Linked DNA regions of Homo sapiens. The protein of the gene in region 1 binds, or shares a complex with, the protein of each later gene. Each region holds a gene or a part of one and is shown on either strand. Other genes may lie near its edges. The genes, in order: NCAPH2 and NCAPG2.

The links.
Region 2: the proteins of NCAPH2 (region 1) and NCAPG2 are in contact, whole or in part, in a cryo-EM structure (PDB 9F5W), measured with the Homo sapiens proteins. Residues at the interface, in NP_689512.2 of Homo sapiens: Pro316, Trp317, Gln318, Ser319, Leu320, Pro322, Phe323, Asp324, Ser325, Leu326, Glu327, Ser328, Lys329, Pro330, Phe331, Lys332, Lys333, Gly334, Arg335, Pro336, Tyr337, Ser338, Val339, Glu344, Gln360, Asp361, Phe362, Gln364, Trp365, Tyr366; in NP_001268861.1 of Homo sapiens: Lys248, Leu251, Gln252, His292, Ile294, His295, Leu296, Pro297, Arg299, Ser300, Val302, Lys340, Ala341, Arg342, Asn343, Ser344, Glu345, Val346, Pro388, Tyr389, Pro390, Arg393, Gly425, Glu426, Ala428, Phe429, Asp430, Thr431, Ser432, Arg437.

Annotation. Positions count from the first base shown.
Region 1 is NC_000022.11:50,507,952-50,519,903, forward strand, and holds the start of NCAPH2 (condensin-2 complex subunit H2), read left to right. Parts: upstream 1-272; 5' UTR 273-386; coding exon 387-494; intron 495-7,768; exon of another isoform or gene 7,769-7,796; coding exon of another isoform or gene 7,797-7,823; intron 7,824-8,495; coding exon 8,496-8,597; intron 8,598-9,475; coding exon 9,476-9,531; intron 9,532-9,625; coding exon 9,626-9,710; intron 9,711-9,789; coding exon 9,790-9,858; intron 9,859-10,021; coding exon 10,022-10,101; intron 10,102-10,176; exon of another isoform or gene 10,177-10,181; coding exon 10,182-10,327; intron 10,328-10,697; coding exon 10,698-10,781; intron 10,782-11,238; coding exon 11,239-11,369; coding exon of another isoform or gene 11,370-11,408; exon of another isoform or gene 11,409-11,801; intron 11,802-11,952. UniProt on the Homo sapiens protein: Regulatory subunit of the condensin-2 complex, a complex that seems to provide chromosomes with an additional level of organization and rigidity and in establishing mitotic chromosome architecture.
Region 2 is NC_000007.14:158,699,598-158,711,709, forward strand, and holds the start of NCAPG2 (condensin-2 complex subunit G2), read right to left. Parts: upstream 5,208-12,112; 5' UTR 5,127-5,207; intron 4,106-5,126; exon of another isoform or gene 2,651-4,105; intron 2,342-2,650; 5' UTR 2,303-2,341; coding exon 2,225-2,302; intron 1-2,224. UniProt on the Homo sapiens protein: Regulatory subunit of the condensin-2 complex, a complex which establishes mitotic chromosome architecture and is involved in physical rigidity of the chromatid axis.

The DNA.
Region 1 (11,952 bases):
CCCGTGGCAGCCCCCAAGCCCCGCCTCCTCGGCCCGCTCGCCCGCGGCAGCTCCAGGCCCCGCCCCACCCCGCCCCGCCCGACCCACGGCGGCCCCAAAAGCCCTCCCGTCCAAACTGGTGGCAGCCCAAAGCTCCGCCCACCCCCCCCTCCCGGAGGCTTCGACCCCGCCCCGCGACTCTTCCGGTGAGCTCCCGCTGCGCGGCGCCGGGGTTCGCCTCTCTGGCTTTTGCCCACGTTACGTCATAGACATGCGCGCGACGCCGCGCCTACGCATTTTCCTGGGCGGGAACAGCAAAATGGCGCCAGAACTAGTGGCGGGCTGAGGACGCCGTACCCCTCGGAAGGCAGCCCTGCGGTCCCTTTGCCGCCCGTTCCCTCCCGGACATGGAGGACGTGGAGGCGCGCTTCGCCCACCTCTTGCAGCCCATCCGCGACCTCACCAAGAACTGGGAGGTGGACGTGGCGGCCCAGCTGGGCGAGTATCTGGAGGAGGTAAGGGCGGCGGGGGAGTGACGCGGGGTGGGCCGGCGGGTGGGGCTGCGGGGCGGGGGCTCCGGGCCCGGGGCTGTGGGCGCCCCACCGTCTCCACGCCTATGGCTATCTGGCGCTCTGGCCGCGCAGGTCCTCGGGCTCCCTGCTTCTTTTCAAACTCCATCTCTGCCTCCCCAAATCATCCCTTGTTGGATTAGCGTGGACCTGTCATTGCAGGTTTCTACCCGTCAGCGAGCCGTGAATGATTGAGTGGGTGGTGACCAGCCGTTTCTCTAACGTAGTGGAATAGACTAGAAAGCATTATTGCTTTTATTGCAGTTATTGCGAGCATGCTTGTGTGTTTGAGAGGTCTGGATCACGATGTCAGAGGAATTTTTTATCTTGGATTTTCAAACCAATTTCAAGCTATTGCCATGCTCTATCCTGTTAGCGATTAGTGTTTCTTCCATGTTTGACAGCCCTGTCTAGACCTGTGTTAAGCTGTCTGCTCCATATTTGCGCTTCATTTTTACTCCTCAGCCCAGCTCAGTCTGGCGTCCACGACACTTAAATGTTTCTTGTCTTGATCAGCAGTGATCTCCATTCTACCAAATCCAAGGGACATAAGTCAGCATTTGTTGGACTGGCCACTCCTTTCTTTTTGAAACATGGTGGTAGGATTTTTTTTCCCTATTTCATTGCCTGATTTTTCTTTTCTATCCAGTCTCTAAGTGTTGAGTTCCTCAGGATGGGGCCTAGGTCATCTTCTGATGCATTTACCCTGAAGTGTCATTTATTTCTATGATTTTAAATATTGCCTGTATTAGGACAACTACCAGATCTGCAGCTCCATCCTAGATCTTTCCTCCAAATCTACTTTACATATCCAGCTGCTCTCTTGACATCTAGTGGGTGTCACGCAAACATCTCATTTAACATATTTAAAGTGGAACTCTTCATTTTTCTGCTTAAACCCCAGCTTTTCCCATCTCGGAAAATGACACCGCTGTTCAACCAAAAGCAAAAGCTAAATGTGGCTATAGTGAAGCCCCATGCTTAACACTCAGTTCATCCATGAATTCCATCAGTTATACCACCGGAATATCACTTGAATTCATCTGTTGTCCATTTTATTTGGTCTAGGCCACCATTGTCTCTGGCCTGGATTTGTGTAAAACCTTCCTATTTGGGTTCCCTTATCCCTGTTTTTGTCCCGTCCAATTCGTGCTCCAACCAGCAGCAAGTGTGACTCTTAAAAATTAAAATCTGGCCACAGCACTGTTTTCTGCCTAAAATCAACCCCTCAGTGGCTTTCCATTATGCCCAGAATAAAACCCAAATTTCCTTCTCTGAACCTGGCTCTGCTCTCCATTTTAGCCTCATTTTGGGCTGTTTTGTATCTTGTTCTTTTGAACCAGTCAACCTATGGCCCCTCCAAGCTTTTTCTTGGTGGAAGATCTTCATGCTTTCTGCCCCCACTTGGGAATCTTCTTTTTTGTTTTTATTTATTTATTTATATATTTTGAGACGGAGTCTCACTCTGAGACGGAAGTGCAGTGGCGCGATCTGAGCTCACTGCAAGCTCCGCCTCCTGGGTTCACATCATTCTGCCTCAGCCTCTGCAGTAGCTGGGACTACAGGCGCCCGCCTCCACGCCCAACTAATTTTTTTGTATTTTAGTAGAGACAGGGTTTCACCGTGTTAGCCAGGATGGTCTCGATCTCCTGACCTCGTGATCCGCCTGCCTTGGCCTCCCAAAGTGCTGGGATTACAGGCGTGAGCCACCGCGCCCGGCCTCTTTTTTGTTTTTAAATAAAGAGGGACTTCATATGGCAAGGAAAAGGAGAAAAAAAAAATCAGAGAGGAGGATCTTACTGTGTTGCCCAGGCTGGTCTCAAACTGCTGTGCTCAAGCAGTCCTCCTGCCTCAGCTTCTCAGGTAGCTGGGACTATAGCTGTGCACCACCACACCTGGCTGGGAATATTCTTTCAATGACTGAGTTTGTTTTCTTTTCTTTTTTTGAGATGGAGTCTTGCTCTGTTGCCCGGGCTGGAGTACAATGGCAGAATCTTGGCTCACTGCAACCTCCGACTCCCAGGTTCAAGCAATTCTCCTGCCTTGGCCTCCCGAGTAGCTGGGATTACAGGCATGCACCACCACGTCCAGTTAATTTTTGTATTTTTAGTAGAGATGGGTTTCGCCACATTGGCCAGGCTGGTCTCAAACTCCTGACCTCAGGTGATCCAGCCAGCTCTGCCTCTTTCCAAAGTGCTGGGATTACAGACGTGAGCCACCACGCCTGGCTGACTGAGTCCTTTTCATTCTTAAGGTCTTAGTGTAAATGTCAGCTGACCACCCTATCTAAAATAGTCCTCTCCATCTCAGCACCTTACACACTTTAGAATGTTTATCATAAACCATTTAAATTTTTTTTTTTTTTGAGATGGAGTCTTACTCTGTCGCCCAGGCTGGAGTGCAGTGGCATGATCTCAGCTCACTGCAAGCTCTGCCTTCTGGGTTCACGCCATTTTCCTGCCTCAGCTTCCCGAGTAGCTGGGACTACAGGCACCTGCCACCACACCCGGCTAATGTTTTGTATTTTTAGTAGAGACGGGGTTTTACCGTGTTAGCCAGGATGGTCTCGATCTCCTGACCTGGTGATCCGCCCGTGTCGGTGTCCCAAAGTGCTGGGATTACAGGCATGAGCCACCGCGCCCAGCCAAAAAAAATTTTATTTATTTATATGTTTTTTTTTTGAGATGGAGTCTCACTCTGTCACCCAGGCTGGAGTGCAGTGGTGCAATCTCAGCTTGCTGCAGCCTCCACCTTCTGGGTTCAAGCAGTTCTCCTGCCTCAGCCTCTTTTTTTTTTTTTTTTTTTTTTGAGACGGAGTCTCACTCTGTCGCCCAGGCTGGAGTGCAGTGGTGCAATCTCGGCTCACTGCAAGCTCCACCTCCTGGGTTCACACCATTCTCCTGCCTCAGCCTCCCGAGTAGCTGGGACTACTGGCACCCGCCACCACGCCCGGCTAATTTTTTGTATTTTTTTAGTAGAGACGGGGTTTCACCGTGTTAGCCAGGATGGTCTCGATCTCCTGACCTCATGATCCACCCGCCTCGGCCTCCCAAAGTGCTGGGATTACAGGCCTGAGCCACCGCGTCCGATCCTGCCTCAGCCTCTTGAGTAGCCGGGATTACAGGCGCCTGCCACCACGCCTGGCTAATTTTTTTTTTTTTCTTGAGACAGAGTCTTGCCCTGTGGCCCAAGTTGGAGTGCAGTGGCACAATCTCGGCTCACTGCAAGCTCCATCTCCTGGGTTCGCGCCATTCTCCTACTTCAGCCTCCTCAGTAGCTGGGATTACAGGCGCCCGCCACCACGCCTGGCTAATTTTTTTGTATTTTTCAGTAGAGACAGGGTTTCACCATGTTAGCCAGGATGGTCTTGGTCTCCTGACCTCGTGATCCACCCGCCTCGGCCTCCCAAAATGCTGGGATTACAGGTGTGAGCCACCGTGCCTGGCCCCAGCTAATTTTTGTATTTTTAGTAGAGATGGGGTTTCACCATGTTGGCCAGGCTGGTCTTGAACTCTTGACCTCGTGATCCGCCCACCTCATCCTTTGAAAGTGCTGGGATTGCAGGTGTGAGCCACTGCGACTGGCCACAAGCCATTCTTCAACTCATTTACCTGTTTGTGGCCTGTCTCCACCCTAGAATGTGAATTCTGCCAGGGCAGGGACCATACTTATGCCCTCTTTTGTCTGCTTAGTAGAGTGCCTGGCACATAGGTGTGGACGTTAAAGTGTTTGTTAAATGCACATGTGATCTGATGACCAAACTTCTCTGCTCTCATGCATAGTTGGCTGAGAAAATACGGGGAACTGTGCTGGGCAGAGCTCCTGTGGATTCAGGTTTTCACATCAAGCAGGGTCCATGAGGACACCTGTTCACTTGGTAAATCTCCTTCCTGGCTTGGTCAGCTCCCTTCCTGCTTTCTTATGTCTGCTCTTCCAAACCTCTGCAGCTTGAAGTCCTGATTTCCTGGTTTCTAGTATTATCTTTTTCCTTCTGTCATTTTCCACACACTACCATGATGTTCTTTTTCTTTTTTTTGTCCTTTGTTTTTTTTTTTTTGTTTTTTTTTTTTAGATAGGTTCTTGCCCTGTTGCCCAGGCTAGAGTGCAGTGGTGCAATCATGGCTCACTGCAGCCTCGATCTCCCAGGCTCAAGTGATCCTCCCATCTCCCAAGTAGCTGGGACTGCAGGCATGTGCCACCGCACCTGGCTAATTTTTTGTATTTTTGGTAGAGATGGGGTGTCACTGTGTTGCCCAGGCTGTTCTCAAACTCCCAAGCTCAAGTGATCCACCTGCCTTGGCCTCCCAGAGTGCTGGGATTATAGGTGTGAGCCATTGCACTGGCCAGAATGTTCTTCTAGTACTGTCATGATCCTACTCTCTTTTATCCATTTATTTATTCATTGTTGTTAGTTGTGAATTGTGTGCCAAGAACCATGTTAAACTTTGAAAAAATAGTGCCAAGCAAAGCAAATGATAATCCCCACTATGGTAGGACTTCCTCTGTCATGGGAAGACGGGTCCAAGAGAGTAACCGCATGGGGGTGTAATAAATATGCATTTGGTGTTTACTTGTGTTAAGCACCTGTTTTATGTGCTTTACACATATGAATGCAGAGTCCTCACAAAAACCTTGTTAGTAGAGGCGTTAGAGATGTACTCTGAATGATAGTGGTTCCTGGCAGATCAGAATCCAGCCTCCACCCCTGCGTGTGACTTTGTGTAGTCAGAAACTGATGGCCAGGCGAGGTGGCTAACGCCTGTGATCCCAGCACTTTGGGGGGCCAAGGTGGCTCACGCCTGTGATCCCAGCAGTTTGGGGGGCCAAGGTGGCTCACGCCTGTGATCCCAGCACTTTGGGGAGCCGAGGTGGCTCACGCCTGTGATCCCAGCACTTTGGGGGGCCGAGGTGGCTCACGCCTGTGATCCCAGCACTTAGGGAGGCCGAGGTGGCTCACGCCTGTGATCCCAGCACTTAGGGAGGCCGAGGTGGCTTACGCCTGTAATGCTAGCACTTTGGGAGGCCGAGGCAGGAGGATCATTTGAGGTCAGGAGTTCGAGATGAGTCTGACCAGCATGGTGAAAACCTGTCTCTGCTAAAAGTACAAAAAAAATTAGCCAGGTATGGTGGTGCATGCCTGTAGTCCCAGTTACTTGGGAGGCTGAGGCAGGAAAATCACTTGAACCTGGGAGGCAGGGGTTGCAGTGAGCCGAGATTGTGCCACTGCACTCCAGCCTGGACAACAGAGCGAGAGACTGTCTCAAAAACAAAAACCAAAACCAACCAACCAACCGAAAAAATCACCAGAAACTTATAAGGGATTTGAAAGAAAATGTATGGTCCTGTGGAGAGTTTGGGGGGCTTAGTTTGTTTGAGATGAAAGCAGTTACTTATTTATGGTGAGCTAAAGAATGTTTAGCTCCAGGTGGAGGAAACCTGGTGTTGGAAGGATTGGAGTTTTTACAAAAATTAGCCGGGCGCCTATAATCCCAGCTACTCAGGAAGCTTAGGCAGGGAGAATTACTTGAACCCAGGAGGCGGAGGTTGCAGTGAGCTGAGATTGCGCCCCTGCATTCCAGCTTGGGTGACAGAGTGAGACTCCGTCTCAAACAAAACAAAACAAAACAAAACAGAAGGTTCCAAGTTGGGACCATAGAGCAGAGGAGGGCAGGCAGCTGGAGAGGGAGGCTGGCCAGCATGGAGGCCTCCCTCTGGCTCCGTTTAGGATTTTGGGTTTTTCCTGCCACTGTTAGGAAAAACCCAAAATCCTAAACAGAGGCACTGAGCAGAGCGTGGAGAGTGGACGGGAGGGGAGTGAAGGGCAGGAGGAGCCCTGTCAGTGCAGAGGTGAAAGGGGAGGTGGTGGGGCCAGAATGGGGGTGACTGTGGAGAGGAACCCCTGGGTTTCTGGGCAGGTGGGTTGGGGGCTATTTGGAGTTCAGTGTGGATGCATTCAGTATGAATCTTGGTGAAGCCATCCAAGCGATGTTTGAAGAAGGCAGCTGAACATGTGGGTTTGGGCTCAGATGGCAGGTCCAACCTGGGGAGGTGAGAAGACAAGTGAAGCCCAGTAGTGTCTTGGGAGTGGGCAAGCCAGCCAGGCTGAGGGTCACTGGAGAGAAGGGCCACTTCTGCAGCTCAGCTTCCAGGCCGCCATCTCCTCCATGTTCCCTTCTTTCTGGACCAGCTCTTCAGGTCCTGAACACCCCCGAGGTCCTTACACTCCGTAGACGACCATGCTGCTGTTTCCTCTCCCTTCCTCCCAGATCTGACAAACACCCTTTATCCTTCAAGAGCTAATGGAAGTGACTCCCCTTGGGGATGGCTTCCCAGCCTCTGCCACTCCTTCGTGCTACCATGGTGCCTAAAATCTTGCCTCTCCCCAGCACGCGCCATGCTTTGGCCATGTTTAGATCATGCTCATTTTCCTGAAGAGACGTGTCCAGTCTCTGCTAGCTGCCTTCACGTTCCCTTCATCTGTCTGGTGAGCCTCTGCGTTTTTCAGGCTTAGCTTTGACATTATCTATGCATGTGTTCATCAAATATTTACTGGACACCAGTGTCAGGCACTGAACAGAAGGCTGGAATTACACTAATGCTGCTCACACAGTTCACTAAGGGACACGATCACACTAAGGGAGCGGCACAGAGGCCCCAGGAATGGAGGGGCTCTGAAAAAGAGTTTGCGTGGGGACAGCTGGGGGTCGGTGTTCCAGGCAGATGGAAATGCAAAATTGAAGAGCTGGAAAGACACCTAGGGGCTTCAAAGTGTCGTTTGTGGCTGGGCACGGTGGTGCATGCCTGTGATCCCAGTGCTTTGGGAGGCTGAGGCAGGAGGATCACTGGAGGCCAGGAGTTTGAGACCAACCTGGGCAACATAGAGAAACCCTGTCTCTACAAAAACATTTTTTTTTTGAGACGGAGTCTCGCTCTGTCGCCCAGGCTGGAGTGCAGTGGCGCGATCTCGGCTCACTGCAAGCTCCGCCTCCCAGGTTCATGCCATTCTCCTGCCTCAGCCTCCCGAGTAGCTGGGACTACAGGCGCCCGCCACCACGCCCAGCTAATTTTTTGTATTTTTAGTAGAGACGAGGTTTCACCGTGTTAGCCAGGATGGTCTCGATCTCCTGACCTCATGATCTGCCCGCCTCGGCCTCCCAAAGTGCTGGGATTACAGGTGTGAGCCACCGCACCCGGCCTTTTTTTTTTTTTTTTTTTTAAAGTGTCATTTGCTGAGAAGGAATACAGGAGATGAGCCAGCGTTGGGGAAGATGTTGGGTAAAGTATGGAAGTAAAGTGTTTGGGGACATTTGAATGTACTCTGTGGACAGCTATGAATGCAGCCCCAGAGCTAAGGAGAGAGAGCTGGTCGGGTTGGGTTTGGGGCTCATTGGCTTATGGTTGGCAGCTTGGGCATGGGATGAAGGAATGTGCATGGCGGGGGGTGGAGCGCCTGGCGCACTGACGTTTAAGGGGTGACAGAGGAGCTGGGGCTCCGGGAGGCTGAGGGGAGCAGAGGAAGGATGGCGACTCACCTGTAACTGTTTCCTGAGTTCTCTGCTCAGAGGATGGAGACCTCAGCATTTTATCTCTGCCTTTCCTACCCCTGAGGTTCCCTTTTCTTCTCTGTGTCGGGGATCTTCCTGCTGGAGTCTGTCAGCCTCTGGCGCCTTGTGGAGGGAGCCGCTGTGCTGCCCTGGTTGTTTGTAGACAGTGTGCCCTGGGGGCCTTCCACTTCCAAAACAGGTTTTTGTTATAGGAAGTAGGGGGAAACACAGAGACCTGTCTCTGCCCCGAAATACCAGGGACAACCGGTGAGCCCACAGCATAGCTAGAGCTGCCCGTCTCGGGAGGTGCTGGGCAGAGACCAAAGATGGGTGGGGCTGCCCTGGAAGAAGCGAGTGCAGACTGGGCCTTGGATTCCCCCTGTCTTTGTGTTGTTTCTTGCAGCTGGATCAGATCTGCATTTCTTTTGACGAAGGCAAGACCACAATGAACTTCATTGAGGCAGCGTTGTTGATCCAGGGCTCTGCCTGCGTCTACAGTAAGAAGGTGGGCCCTGCTTGACGCTGGTCTTGGCATTTTGGTGGCCAGTGGGACCACAGTCGGCTCTCCTTCTGGGGCAGGTGCAGTGGTCGTCCCGTCTGTGACCTACCTCCCTCTCTCCTCAGGTCTCAGCCAATTCCTCAGCACCTTCCAACACCAAGAACAATTTTTAATTTAAAATCGCACAGCCAGGCAGGGAGGGTCTTTTGTGCTGTTGGGCTCTGTTGTCTTGGGGGAATGACACCTGCTGTGTGCACTTGGACACAGCCCAGGGTGCCACCTGCACCCACCTTCCCCTTCCCCGTCCCCTACTTGTGGGTGCCTCATTGTCAGCACCTAGAAAGTCCACAACCACCACCCTCACGGTGGGGCCTCTGTTCTGTGGAGGAGAAGGACAGGAAGTGAGTGACGGGCTCTGTCCTGCAGGCCCCGTGGCGGCAGGAGCTGGGACAGGGCAGGGCCAGGACAGGAGGAGGGGCTGGGGTGATGCTGGCGGGAGCACACGGGCGGAGGAGCAGCAGGGCTGCAGGCCGTCGGCAGAGTGGGTGCCAAGCACGAGGGGCCTCACCACCAAGGACCGTGTGATGAGGCACACTGTGGGAACCACAGTGCTGTCAGGGTCACACGTTGAGAAGGCCACGCTCGCGGCTGCGTGGACCATAGAGGGCAGAGGAGAGATGTGGGTGGCCTCAGCTGGTAAAGTAATTCTCATGAGATTCCTGGTTTGATTTGAGAATTATTTTTGGAACCAAAATTGGTGGTTTCTTGTACTGGAGGTTTGGTGGTGGTGGCCAGGCCTCGTGGGGGCACCGATGGATAGCTGGGAAGGCCTTGGGGGTGGGCCCCTCCTTTCTGGGTCCTCACTGCCTGCATCTGGTCACCAGGTGGAATACCTCTACTCACTCGTCTACCAGGCCCTTGATTTCATCTCTGGAAAGAGGTGAGTTCTGCAGCCACTCACTGTGCTGCCCTGCATGTGGCCAGGGAGGCCCCTGCAGCTCCTGGGATGCCCACGGGATGTGCTTCTCTCTCAGGCGGGCCAAGCAGCTCTCTTCGGTGCAGGAGGACAGGGCCAATGGGGTTGCCAGCTCCGGGGTCCCCCAGGAGGCAGAGAATGAGGTGAGTTTCTTTGGCATGTGGTCCCCGCCCACTGTGTGTTTGCCTGGGCTCCGCCCCCACGAGCTCTGTCTCCCTCCAGTTCCTGTCGCTGGATGACTTCCCTGACTCCCGGACTAACGTGGATCTCAAGAATGATCAGACGCCCAGTGTGAGTCCTGGCCTGGCCCCTCTTAGGCTGGGGTGAGGTCAGCACTTTCCCTGGGGCTGTGTTGAGCTGATGGGGTGTGGGAAGGTGTCATTGCCCCATGTGGGTCCTGTTCTCCACTGGAGTGGAAGGGTGCCTGGCTCACCCACCCTTGGCCTCCATGCAGGAGGTCCTCATCATCCCCCTCCTGCCCATGGCCCTGGTGGCCCCTGATGAAATGGAGAAGAACAACAATCCCCTGTACAGGTAGGGATCTGAGCCCAGCGACGGGGAGGGAGGCCTGCCTGGGAAGGGTCTCTACAGCAGGCGTGTTTTTGCCAGCACAGCCGTCAGGGTGAGGTCCTGGCCAGCCGGAAGGATTTCAGGATGAACACGTGCGTTCCCCACCCCAGAGGGGCCTTCATGTTGGAGCCAGAGGGCATGTCCCCCATGGAACCAGCGGGCGTTTCCCCCATGCCAGGGACCCAGAAGGGTGAGGGCTTGGATGCGGGGGGCTTGGTGGGAAGGAAGGGAGGGTCTTCTGGTTGGACTCTTGTGGGGTGCCCTGTGCTTGCCACCTCTGGTCTTGGGAGCTCCCTGTCTCTGGGTGCCTGCTCTAGTCTAGACAGGTTGGCTGGTGCTCATCCCACCCATCTGCTGTGCCTTGATTACAAGTTAACATGGTCTCAGTGCCAGAGACCTGGTGCCTGGCTCAGGGCCCTGCTGTCTCCCCCCAGCCCAAGGCCTGGAGTCTGCTGGTCTCTGCCCTCCTGCTGGCCCCTTGGAGAGGCTTGTTGAACACCGGGCAGGGACCATCTTGGAGAGGGGCTGGGCTGACCTTGTCTGATCCCTGTCTCTCCCAGACACCGGGAGGACTGAGGAGCAGCCAATGGAAGTTTCCGTGTGCAGGAGCCCTGTCCCAGCACTCGGCTTCTCCCAGGAGCCAGGTGAGAAGAGAGCTCCCCGGTGGGACTGGCAGGGCAGCCAAAGAGGGGACCAGGGAGGCAGCACCCAGTGGACAGGGCTCCAAGGGGCTGCTCTCAGCTGCCAGCCTCATGCCCCTTCTGTGGCCCATGGGAGTGAGGCCTCGCCCCGGGGAAGCAGCCACAGCCCCCGGTGAGCCTCAGCCCATCTTGGTTCACTGACTGCCCTCTGACTGCCCTCCTGGGTCTCCTCTCTGGGCAGATGTGGATGGCTGCATTTAAAGAGGAACATTTGCTAAGAAATAAAATGAACCAAGCAGAGCACAGAGCACAGGAGCACGACGAGGATGGTGCAAGGCACCCGCCAAATCCTCTGGGCTCCGTGACTAAAGCTGAGGGAGGAAGTAGCCATCAGGGTCCCTTTGGTGCCGTCTGGTCTCGGCACTCCTTGGAGCTGATCACTCTCTTGCTCCCTGCCTAGGCCCCTCTCCAGAAGGCCCGATGCCCCTGGGTGGGGGCGAGGACGAGGATGCAGAGGAGGCAGTAGAGCTTCCTGAGGCCTCGGCCCCCAAGGCCGCTCTGGAGCCCAAGGAGTCCAGGAGCCCGCAGCAGGTGGGACCCACATGGAGGCCTGCAGAACCTGAGCTGTGAACTGGCAACCCTGGCTCTGGGGCCGAGTCACCTTGCACAAGGAGGACAGTGGTATGGCCTTGGCCCCAGACCACTGGTCTGGGGCAGAAGCCCACCTGTCTTGCAGCCCGTCCTGCAACCAGCCCTTTTGAAGAGCAGCTTCTGTGTTCCTCCCCTCTCTGAGCAGAACTGATGCTCCTCAGAGTAGTGGGCTGGCGTCCAAGGATTTGAGCCCTGTCGAGCTCACGGCAACCTGGGATGGCCGCCGGTTGCCAAGGCGCCTCTCTGCAGTCGGGCTGGTAGGAGGGAGTGTCTGGAGGCCATTGCTGCCTCCCTCAACCCCCGGGGTCAACTGTACCCAGCCTAGAGCCAAGAAATCCTTCCTTTTTATTCATTAAAACAAAATCAACCTGATGCATACAGAGGAAATGTTAACGTTTCTTCACTCTAGTTGGTAGATGGCATGGATATTTGTCATATTCTATTCATTTTTCCTAGTTTTGAAGAAGAGTACCCCGTGACCACTGTTTGTGTTTTCTGTTTGTTTTTTGAGATGGAGTTTTGC
Region 2 (12,112 bases), on another chromosome or scaffold:
TGCACCCTCCCCAGGCCCACCGTGCTCTCCAATGCTCTGTATTCCCCTCTGCCTTGCTTGCCTTTTTCTCCTCTGTTCTACCTCATTTTCTTCCTCTTACACACAGAGGGGCAGGTGTACCTTGGGAGCACAGGCACCTACTCCCAACTATAGAATGTAAATATTTTTCAAGGTAAAGTGCCATGCTTACTATAGTATTTATGCATTTCTTACTGATTTAACATATAAAATTATGCTACTGTTTTATTAGGTTCCTGTTTTTAACATGTCACTGGCAAAATTTTTTAGTGTTGTCCCTCTAACTCCATTTTCCCCATAATCTCTCTGGGTTATTTATTTATTTATTTATTTATTTATTTTAACCAATTCTGCAGAGTGCAGTGACTGTTGGTAATGCATGTGTGGGATTACAGCAGAACTAACTGTACTTGGAAAGATCTACCTGATAGGCCCCAAACTGATTTAAATTCTTATCAAATTGAACTATGGGAAACCATCATTATTATATAAAATGGCATTTCTGTCATTCAACTTGATGAAACCACGTGATGCACAATCCTACACATTTTCATTTTTACACGTAAGAGCCACACGGTGACTAGGTACTAAGCTGAACTGTTAAGTGTTAATAAAGCTTATTGATAAACTAGAGTTAATGCCTCATTAGTATAAGGACTAATTCAGTATTCTCCTGAGATGTCTGCTGGCTTTCCAGCAACACTGCAAAGGCTGGTTGGCACACAACGGGTGGCTGGAAACAACGCACCCCAGAAGGGCACCTGTCATTGTGGCCACCAGTGTGATTTTGAGTTGCTATTTTTACCTCTGATTTTCAATTTAGTTTTCTGTGATTTTGTTAACATTATGGTATGCACTTTGCAACAACAATCTTTTAGACTTTAAAATATGTATGTACTGCATTTCCAATACAATCCATATACACTGCTACTGCTAAAGCAGACATTTATATATTATCTAACTAATTTGCTCTTATAAACACTTCTATGGTGATGAGATGCCTATGAGTTTGCGATTATTTTTAAGTTTACAGGATATCATTTTATAATACCAAAACATGTTATAAGCTCATTTCTCTTATAAAGAAAAATGATTTCTTAAATGTTGCCAGTAACAAATTCATTATTAGATTCCTCTAATTCTTTGTCACTAATTTGATTTTCACCACATAATAAGAACAAGTGAGACAAGTGTGCCAAGGGTCTCCTGCCCCAAAGATACTTTCGTATTTCAGAGTCAGTGCCTCCAATGCTGGCTTCCTCAGAGATGTGTCCTAGGCCCTTTTATCTGAAACTCTACAGAGATAACTGCAGGCATTCCCATGACTTAGGCTTCCATGCCCAACCTGTCTCTAGCTCAGCCCTTTCCCCTGGTATCCAGACGTGCATGTCTGACTACTGGCCATCCGCTGGTGCACATCCCACCACCAGTCATCTGGTACCTCCAAAATGGAGCCACATTCTCCCTTGAATCTGCCCTCTTCCCACGTTCATGAGCTTGCTGAATGGTACTACACAGTCAGACGCCTGGGCCCTTCCCCACCATATCCATATCCAATCAGTCCAATAGTGCCATCACTTCACTACCAAGCAGCTTCCCATTTCCAGTTCCTAATTCAACCATCATTTTGAAGAGCACAACCTAAGAGGTTAGCCTTAAATATGTCCCTTTGACATATTTCTCACTTGTAGTCAGAGGAATATTTCCAAAAGGCAAACCATATTTTTCTCCTTACCTCTATTTTGTCCACTAGTTCTCTCTCCTTCTCTTTTGTTCTCTTCCTCCCTTGCCTACAGCTCGCTCCCTGCTTCAAGCACCCACCGTTCTCAAGATAAAGTCTGAATTCCTTAAAATGGTAAAGACTCGTGTAGCCTAGCCCCCAGCCTCATCTTCTGCCTTCCTGCTGAACTTCAAGTTCAAACACAACAAACCTTCTCTAGTCTTCAGAGTGACCTTCTTTGTTAGATGGGTCCTTTCCCCCAACATCCCTCTTTGACTGGTTAACTTCTGTTTATCTTTTACATCTTAGCGTAGCCCACCAGCAGGTAGATTTGAGTATAAAGGGTTTTGTTTTCTTCTTTCAAATAAACATTGGTCGCTAAGGATTCACTGAGATAACTATGTTTCTTTTGGGGACATAATGACTTTAGAACATATTTCATATTCACAGTCAAAAATCACAACAAAACTAAAACATGAAACTTACATCAAGTTGAACAAATTGCAAAAACTCTCCAACCAGCTCCTTAGACACGGCTTGTACAAACGTCTCACGTTTTTCCATGACAGATGGCACTGTTCAAATGGCATTTATTTTGTAACCCTAATGGAAAACACAATCATACTGAAACACTTGCAAATATATCTTTTCCTGTAAGATTTAATTTGATATTAACATCCAAGAACTGCAAGAAAATTCCTCAACCACGTATGGCAGACAGTTTCTAAAAACATTCTGACATAAAACACGCTATAATATCTGAAAAACAATTTACTTATTTCCTTTACTGGGGATGTGAATAACATGATATTAATGATATTTTATCAACAATTGTTAATAAAATTACCAACTAAGGAGGGAGAAATCCAAATAGCCTTAGGAAGCTCACCACCATCTCTCCCTTTTTAGTACCTTAGCAAGATGCTGGCTCGGCAGAGCTGAGTTGATTCAACAAAAGAACAATCTGATCCCAGCTGCAGATTCTGAAGATGCTCCCTTTCTAAAGGCCATTCCTCCATCAAAAAAATCCCACTGTTAGTGTCATCTTGTTATTCAAAGTGAGATGGAAAACAGTGGCCCCGGGGGTCACCTGGGATCTTGTTAGACTATGCATTAGGCATGCTCAACCACAGCACCCTCCTCCCACCCCTTCGGGATAATGAGAGCTCAGGGGACTTTGTATACCCTCCATCCTGCCTGTGTTTTTCCAGGAAATTCTATTTCGCATTCACAATACCTGGTGCTACTGGTGCCCTACTGAAAAAACATCAACCTAAAGATGAGGTAATAGCAAATGATGGAACACATTTGCAGTAGGAGCCCCCTCACTTTAAAAATAAATGAAAACCACCTGCACCATTATAAATAGAGCAATATGGAAAATTATTGCCAATAATTATGGGGACAGAGAGTCATCTTAAACATATAATACTAGATTTTAATGTCCAAATTGAACAAAGCAAAAATAACCTCAGTTTAATGACTCCCGAAATAAGTTAACAGTGAAGTCTGGTCATCTCATTCCTCAACTCAAATGGCTGAACTATGAACTACGGTCATGGACCACATAACATTTCAGTCAACAACAGACCACATGTATGACCGTGGTCCCATAAGATTATAATGCCATATTTTTACTGTGCTTTTTCTATGCTTAGATATGTTTAGCGATGCAAATACTTGCCATTGTATTACAGTTGCCTACAGTATTCAGTACAGTAACATTCTAGGAGCAGTAGGCTACACCATACAGCCTATGTGTGTAGGCTACACCTCTAGGTGTAGGCAAGTCCACTCTGTGATGTTCATGCAATGATGAAATTGCCTAACGACAACGTGTCTCCCTCTTTAAATCAAGCATGACTGGCACATTTTTCACTGACAAAGAAAATGGGGAGGGAAGGGAGAGTGGCCAGTAACAAGCATAATGAATAGTGGCTAGGACAAATTCATGATTTTAGAAAAATAATCCAATAAGGTGCAGCAAACACATGGAATCATACATCTTCGCCCGGCAAGTCTGTGAACACTCTCCACTTTTTCATAGTTCTGGTCACTTTTCTTGTTTGCTCTATTTCCAAGTGTACCTCTTTGGCATGTTAGTCCAACTTACAGTAATACACTTCCTCTAGACTACCAAACTTATTCCTATATTTCCCATTTTCCCTCTTATATTAGTGACTGTAATTTTTTAATGGTTAATTTTTCAATCTATCTCCCAAAGTGGCAATATTCCATGTTTCTTGTACCATATGTGCATAAGACCTCAGCCCTGCAGCCAGAATGCTACTTTCAAGGTAAGGAGTCATCTCACCATCCAGTTATCAGTCCGAAGAGCAGGTTACTCTTCGCACAGGAGGTCTGGTACTAAATCAAGATGAGCATTAAAAAGAAGAAATCCCTGTTACCTTCTCACCACCTGTGACTTCCCACTCCGTCCCCAAACTCCTTCCTCATGGACACAACAAGAGGCACCAAACCAGCAACAAGAGTTCAGGAGACTGATGTCTCTGAGGACAATGCCCACGTCCACAGCTGGGGAGATACTCTCTGAGGGCAGTGCCTACACCCAGGGCTCAGGGGGACTCTCTCTAAGGGCAGTACCGACACCCAGGACTGAGGGGACTCTCTCTGAGGGCAGTTCCCATGCCCAGGACAGAGGGGGTCGCTCTCTGAGGGCAGTGCCCATGCCCAGGACTGAGGGGACGCTCTCTGAGGGCAGTGCCCATGCTCAGGACTGAGGGGGTCGCTCTCTGAGGGTAGTGCCCATGCCCAGGACTGAGGGGACGCTCTCTGAGGGCAGTGCCCATGCCCAGGACTGAGGGGGTCGCTCTCTGAGGGCAGTGCCCATGCTCAGGACTGAGGGGGTCGCTCTCTGAGGGTAGTGCCCATGCCCAGGACTGAGGGGACGCTCTCTGAGGGCAGTGCCCATGCTCAGGACTGAGGGGGTCGCTCTCTGAGGGTAGTGCCCATGCCCAGGACTGAGGGGACACTCTCTGAGGGCAGTTCCCATGCCCAGGACAGAGGAGGTCGCTCTCTGAGGGCAGTGCCCATGCCCAGGACTGAGGGGACACTCTCTGAGGACGGTGCCCATGCTCAGGGCTGGGGGGTCGCTCTCTGAGGGCAGTGCCCGCGCCCGGGGCTGGGATTTTCCTCCGACACGGACAAGAAGGACGGGCGTCGCTGAGCTGGGTAGGGGGGATGGCCCGGGGTCGCCAGTTCCGTCCAGTTCCGTCAGAGGCAGCACTGCCCGCACGCAGGTCGGCCGCCTCCTTAGGGGAGGGGAGGCTGGGACCCCGACCAGCCGAGGAGGGGCTTCCCGCCCGATCCCTGCTACTTCCCAGCCCCTGCTCTGAACCCAATCCCGGCTCGGCACCGCAGCTCTTACCTGGGCTCGGGGACCCGCCGTTTCCCGCGCTCGGACCAGATTCAAACGCACCCGCCGGCGCCCCAGACGGGCCCCGCCCTCCCGGTCGTCATCAGGCGCCGCTCTCGCGAGAGCTGGGGCGCCGCGAGCCTCGGGCCTCGCCCACACGCCCGGCCCGCCCCGCCTCCAGATCATGCCCCGCCCACATGCCCGCCAGTCTTCTTCCTGTCTATGCCCCGCCTCTTAGGGCGCGGCCTCGAGCAGCTAAGCCCAGTGCCCTACCGGGCACTACGGAACGCGCACGCGGGGCGCCACAGCTGGGGAACCCATGCCCGGTCCGCGCGCCGACGTCCACTGCGCGCTCGTGCGCGTCCTGGGGCCTCCGCGGAGGGAGTGCGCGGTCCAGGAGAGGGCGGGGCGCTGCGAGCGGGCGGTGTTGTGGGAAGGAGGAAGGAGAGGAAGAGAGAGAGGGGGAGAGAAAGGAAAGGCTTGGGGCGGGGAGAGGCCACAGGGCCGTGTCTGGATCCCCGGGAGGACCCCACCCCGACCTGGCCGGCCCCCGTGACCGCCCTCCCTGCCGAGGGGGCACCTGTCCGGGTGGTCCGCAGCCTGCACACGGTAGGTGCACCCTGGGCAGGTGCTTCCCCCGCAGGAGCCCCTCCGGCCAGGTGCGGCCCCTAACAGGTGCTTCTCCTGCAGTTGCTCCTCCAGCAGGTGAGGCCCCCGGCAGGTCAGCTGCCCATAGGGTGGAGAGGGAGAGGCCTTAGCGGGGACCCTCGGAGGCACCCGTGTGAAGGAGGAGTAGCAATGTCATTCAATTCTTTGGACTTAAATGCCAAAATCACATACTGATGTATCAATCTCTTTTAATTTGTGTCAGCGAATAACTTGATTGGGCGTTCCCAATTTTTGTTGAAAGCAAATTCTTAGAAAACGGTGCTCTTTACCACCGAGCTCTGCATCCCTTCGTGAGGACTTGGCCTTCCCTGGAGCTATATTCTTTCATGCTTGAGATGTCTAGAGTGGTATCTGTTTTCCTGGCTTAACTCAAGCCAGAGGTCTTGGCGAGATTGAAGTCGTTGCACTGTGGGAGCACAGCACCAACCAATAGGAACATCATGGGAGCCACAAGTGCACTTGTAAATTTCTAGTGACCACATTAGAAAAATGAAGATAAATAGGTGACATTAATTTTTAAATATGTTTTATTTAGCCTAGTATATCAAAAATATTTATGTTACTTGTTGGAATATCGTTTCAACAAGCAATATAAAATTATAGCAGGGAGAAGACTGGTTTACTAGGAAGCTTGCAACAGTGAAGCAAGGCAGGCTGCAGAGGGGAGGGAGAAGACCCACTCAGAGGATGCTGAGTCTGGGACCCTTGTCAACAGGTGGCCGATATCTAACATTGCCTATTTCATCCTGGGGCTCCAGCCACCTCTGACCTCCTCCTCCCTCCATACACAGATCCTTCCCTGCCATTTCTTGAATTTTGGTGCCCTCATCTTCTCACTGCTTTCTTCTTAGCAATTTCCTTCATATCCAAGGTGCAAACTGCCACCTTCAAGCAGTGACCTCTGCATCTGGATTTGCAAGACACGGTTATTTCTGAACTCCAGAATTTTCAACAGCTCACTGCCTACTCCCACGCTGGTGCTGACATGCATCCAAAACAGATATCGACTTCCCCTCCCACCCCTGAATCCTGCCCCTTTCCTTATGCTGGTCCCTCCTCCAATCAGCCATCTGTTCCTGGGGTTTCCACTTCCTGAGTAGGAATAATGTAACAAGTTACGCATGTGAGCTCTGAAGCTGTACCACCTGGGCTAACCTGGTTCTGTGCTCACTAGCTGGTGACCTTTGACAAGCCATGGACGACTGAGCCTCAGTTTCCTCATCTATCAAATGGGACCTACTTAAGTACTGAGCCTCCTCTAGGGGGTTGTTATGAGGCCTAAATGTCTGTATAATGCAGAGCTCAGCCTCCTCTAGGGGGTTGTTATGAGGCCTAAATGTCTATGTAGTGCAGTGCTCAGAGGCACGTGGAAGCAGGGCAGCAGGAGCGCCCAGTGCACCCCCAATGCACCTGCCCATGCAGCCACTAATGTCATAGGATCCTTTGGGTATCGCTTCACCAGCTAGAAACCTCCGTGGCCAGCGGTGCCTCTGCTAGAGTTTTGCTCGAGCCCACTCAGCCCAGCAGGTTGCACTCGGCTTGCACTACCAACCCAGATCCCACGCCTGCCAAGGGTGAGCCAGGTGCAGAGCGGCAAGGGGTATGTGAGCAAGCGAGCATGGGGTCCAACCACTGCGCACACCCAGCCATGCAGCTGCTGTGGTGGAGCAGGCAGCTCTAGGTGCCTGCACAGCTGCCGGCTCCATGCAAGGCTGTGGCTGGACCAGAGGTACCACAAGTGGCTTCCACTGCAGGCATCAGCATCTGGACAAGGGGAACATGGTGGCACCCGAAAGCTCACAGATGCCAGGAGCCACAGAGCCCCAAAGGGGGGTTACACTGTGTCACAGCCCTGGCTCGGGGAGCCCCGAGGTCTGGGCTCCCAGAAGGGCCACAGCTCTTCTGTCCTTCTCATCACCCACAGCGTGGCTAGCAGGGGGTCGTGTTTCCGGGGCGGCATGTTTCACCTCATTTGTGTTACAGGTCTTTTGGTCCTGCCGCCCCACACCGGTCCACGGCTCCTTGGCTGTCCCGGCCCCACCGCTGCTTCCCACTGCATGGGGTGGCCACTGGGCGCCAGCAGAGGGTGGGAGGGCTATAGCATTATAGCTCTGGCTTGGGGAATCCCAAGGCCTGGGCCTCTACAAGGGTCACCACTCTTCACTCCCTCAGTCTGGGAGCGTGTCACCACCCGCAGCTCAGCGACCCGGCCAGGAACCCGTTACAGCCACTTTGGCTCCCACCTGCAACTTGGCAAGCTGGCCAGGAAAGTATTACAGCTCGTTTTGCTCTCACCATTCAGCAGGTTCCAAGTTCTTGTCCCATGTCCAGGAAGAATGAGGTTTGGCAGACATCTGGAGGGTGAGCAAGGCAGAGAACAGCTGACCAAATAGCTCTCAGTGGAGAGGAGACTCGAAGTGGGTAGCTCCTATCCACAGGCACGTATGGGCTCAGAATGGAGGAAGTACATGTTGATTGGTCCATAGACAGGAGGAAGTGTGTGCTGATTGGCCCATGGGCAGGCCTGGAAAAAGCACTACTTGATTGGCTGAAAGGCATCAAGTAAGTTCTCTTTCTGGATCTCGGACTTCACCAGGAACTGGCATCCTGGCCCAGGAACTTCAGGCTGTCCCTGGCTTGAAAGTGGGGTTTCACCAGGGACCTGCCCCTTCCCACCCAGGAACCTGTCTGCCTCCCGCTGCCATCACCGTTCACTGGGAATGTGACCTTCCCCGCAAATAGATGACACTCCTCCAGAACTCAGCTCAAGCTTTACCTTCTATAGGGGTTTATTTCCTGAACCCCATAACCCTCACTGTAATGCAATCTCTTAGCCCCCTACCACAGGCCTCATCATCTCCTCCATGTCAAGCACTGTGTCATCCTTAGTCCTATATCCGTGGCGTAAGGCCTGGCACATTTTAGATGCTTGAAGAAAATATTTTCTGAATAAATGAATGAATGAGGCATGAGATCATCTGTGTTCTTAAAATCTTACAATGTGGTAAATTAGAAAAGGTTTATAGAATTAAAGGTGGACCACATGGCAAGGCAATATAAAACTAAGTTTCAAAGGGTATAAAACTTGGCAAAAATATCTTTGATAAAAATATAATATCTTTTTTTTTTTTTTGAGACATAGTCTCGCTCTGTTGCCCAGGCTGGAGTACAGTGGTGCTATCTCGGCTCACTGCAAGCTCTGCCTCCCAGGTTCACGCCATTCTCCTGCCTCAGCCTCCCGAGTATATGGGACTACAGGTGCCCGCCACCACGCCTGGCTAATTATTATTATTATTATTATTATTATTATTATTATTATTATTTGTATTTTGTTTAGTAGAGATGGGGTTTCACCGTGTTAGCCAGGATGGTCTCGATCTCCTGACCTCGTGATCCGCCCGCCTCACCCTCCCAAAGTACTGGGATTACAGGCGTGAGCCACCACGCCCGGCCAAAAATATAATATCTTTCATAGTGAGCCAAGCATAGGGTTTGCAGGGTTTTTTTTTTTTTTTAAGTTTAGTTTATTTTGAATTGCACAAGTAACACAATCACACGGTTCAAACTCACATGGCAAGAAGAGGTATACAGAAGAGTCTTCTGAGACCCCCTGGACACAGCCCTCTGCTCCAAAGGAAACCATTGTTATCAGCTTCTCAGAAACCCTTCCCTTGCCTGTATAAGAAAATACAAGATTTATAATTTAATTATAATAATTGTAACATGGAAAATAAGCTAAACCAACAAGAAGTCATTAGCTAGGAACTTCATGGAATCCTAGTTAAAATAACCATTTCAAAGCCACTCTGGGCAAAACCCCCCAGTGCAGGGCAGCTGTGAGGGCTCTGTCACACCAGCCGGGGGCCCGGAGGAGGGGTCTCCAGGGCCACACAGGGCCTGGCCCAGCAGAGTGAGCCACTGGCTCCAAGAAGGGGAGGAGTCTCTCCAGCACATAGGAAGCTGTATTAGTCTGCTCTCACACTGCTATGAAGGAATACCTGAGGCCAGGTGCAGTGACTCACACCTGTAATCCCAGTACTTTGAGAGGCCAAGGTGGGCAGATCACCTGAGGTCTGGAGTTTGAGACCAGCCTGACCAACATGGTGAAACCCCGTCTCTACTAAAAATACAAAAATTACCCAGGCATGGTGGCGTGCGCCTGTAATCCCAGCTACTCGGGAGGCTGAGGCAGGAGAATCGCTTGAACCCAGGAGGCACAGCCACACTTAGGGAGAGCTTGGGAAGGGGTGGAGGGTGACAACTGGGGGTGCTGAGACAGATACCATCACCTGGTGTCCCCGACAGTGAGGGGAGGGGAATGGTGGGGCGAGCCAGGCTCTGCAGGGCCCTCTGGACTTCTGGGGAGCTCCTGTTCAGTGCAAGTGGTTTTCTTCCCCCTCTTAGGTTGAATTCCTCTTTAACATGATCCCCGGCCTTTCGATAAAGGAATTTTCATACACAACCTGCAGCTGTGACCTAGGGAAGACTGCAGGGGCAAAAGTGAAGAGGAAAGTGAGCAGCCCCCCCCCCAATCCCCCTGGGGTCCTCGGGGACGTCGCAGCATGGGTCCAGGGATGCGGAGCTCAGGCACGGGAGGTGAGCTCAGGGGTATCTCCTTAGTGGTTACTCAAAGGAGAACAAGATAAACCATCGAGGGCAAACGTTTTCAACCATGGCTGCCCATGAAAACTACTTCAGCTGCTTTAAAAATACTAAAGGCTAGGCTTCCTGGCCAACTCAATCAAATCGATCAATTCAACCGGGGATTCCCTGGGCATTCTTTTTTTTTAGACAGAGTCTCACACTGTCGCCCAGGCTGGAGTGCAATGGCGCAATCTCGGCTCACTGCAAGCTCCACCTCCCAGGTTCACGCCATTCTCCCATCTCAGCCTCCTGAGTAGCTGGGACTACAGGCGCCCGCCATCACACCCGGCTAATTTTTTTGTATTTTTAGTAGAGACGGGTTTTCACTGTGTTAGCCAGGATGGTCTTGATCTCCTGACCTCGTGATCCTCCCGCCTCGGCCTCCCAAAGTGCTCGGATTACAGGCGTGAGCCACCACACCCGGCCTGCATTCATATTTTTTAACCTCCCCAAGTGATCCTAATGCACAGGTTAGAAGAAACTGATCTCAGAAAACATGTAAAAAGAGGAAACGTGAATGACTCGAGTATAAAATCAATAAAGCTGAGGTTCCTGCTCCAGGCTGAACCTGAAACAGCTGAGAATCGGACTGCGCGATGAGTGGCTCCTCAGCACCTGCCCAAGCCAGGCGTTAACGCGGGACAATCACTGTCCTCTTAAAGCTCATAGCATGACTGAGAAAGTGGACACAACCCAAGTGTCCATCAACAGACAAATGGAGAAACACAGTGTGGTCTTTTCCCACAATAGAATATGACTCAGCTGTAGAAGGAATGAGGCTCTGACACCCCTACAGTGCAGATGACCCTTGAAACATCATGCTCAGTGAGAGAAGCCAGACACGGAGGTCACGGATTGTAGGACTCCATTTATATGGAAGGTCCACATGACTGTAAAATCCACAGAGGCAGGAAGCAGATTAGGTGTTGCCAGAGACTGAGGAGAGGGCGTGGGGAGTGACTACTAATGGCTGTGGTTTTGGGGTGACGAAAATTATCTAAAATTAGATAGTGGTGATGGTTGCACAACCTTGTGGGTTTACTAAGGCCACACAGTTGTATGCTTAAAAGGGTAAATTTTATGGTATAAAACTGTATCTCAATAAAGCTGTTATTAAAAATTCACGGCTGGGCGCGGTGGCTCATGCCTGTAAACCCAGCACTTTGGGAGGCTGAGGCAGGCGGATTACGAGGTCAGGAGATCGAGACCATCCTGGCTAACATGGTGAAACCCCGTCTCTACTAAAAATACAAAAAAATTAGCCGGGTGTGGTGGCGGGCACCTGTAGTCCCAGCTACTCGGGAGGCTGAGGCAGGAGAATGGCGTGAACCCGGGAGGCGGAGCTTGCAGTGAGCCGAGATTGCGCCAATGCACTCCAGCCTGGGCGACAGAGCAAGACTCCGTCTCAAAAAAAAAAAAAAAAAAAAAAAAATTCACGGCCGGGCGCGGTGGCTCATGCCTGTAAACCCAGCACTTTGGGAGGCTGAGGCAGGCGGATTACGAGGTCAGGAGATCGAGACCATCCTGGCAAAACCCCGTCTCTACTAAAAATACAAAAAAATTAGCCAGGCGTGGTGGCGGGAGGCTGTAGTCCCAGCTACTCAGGAGGCTGAGGCAGGAGAATGGCATGAACCCGGGAGGCGGAGGTTGCAGTGAGCCGAGATCGCACCACTGCACTCCAGCCT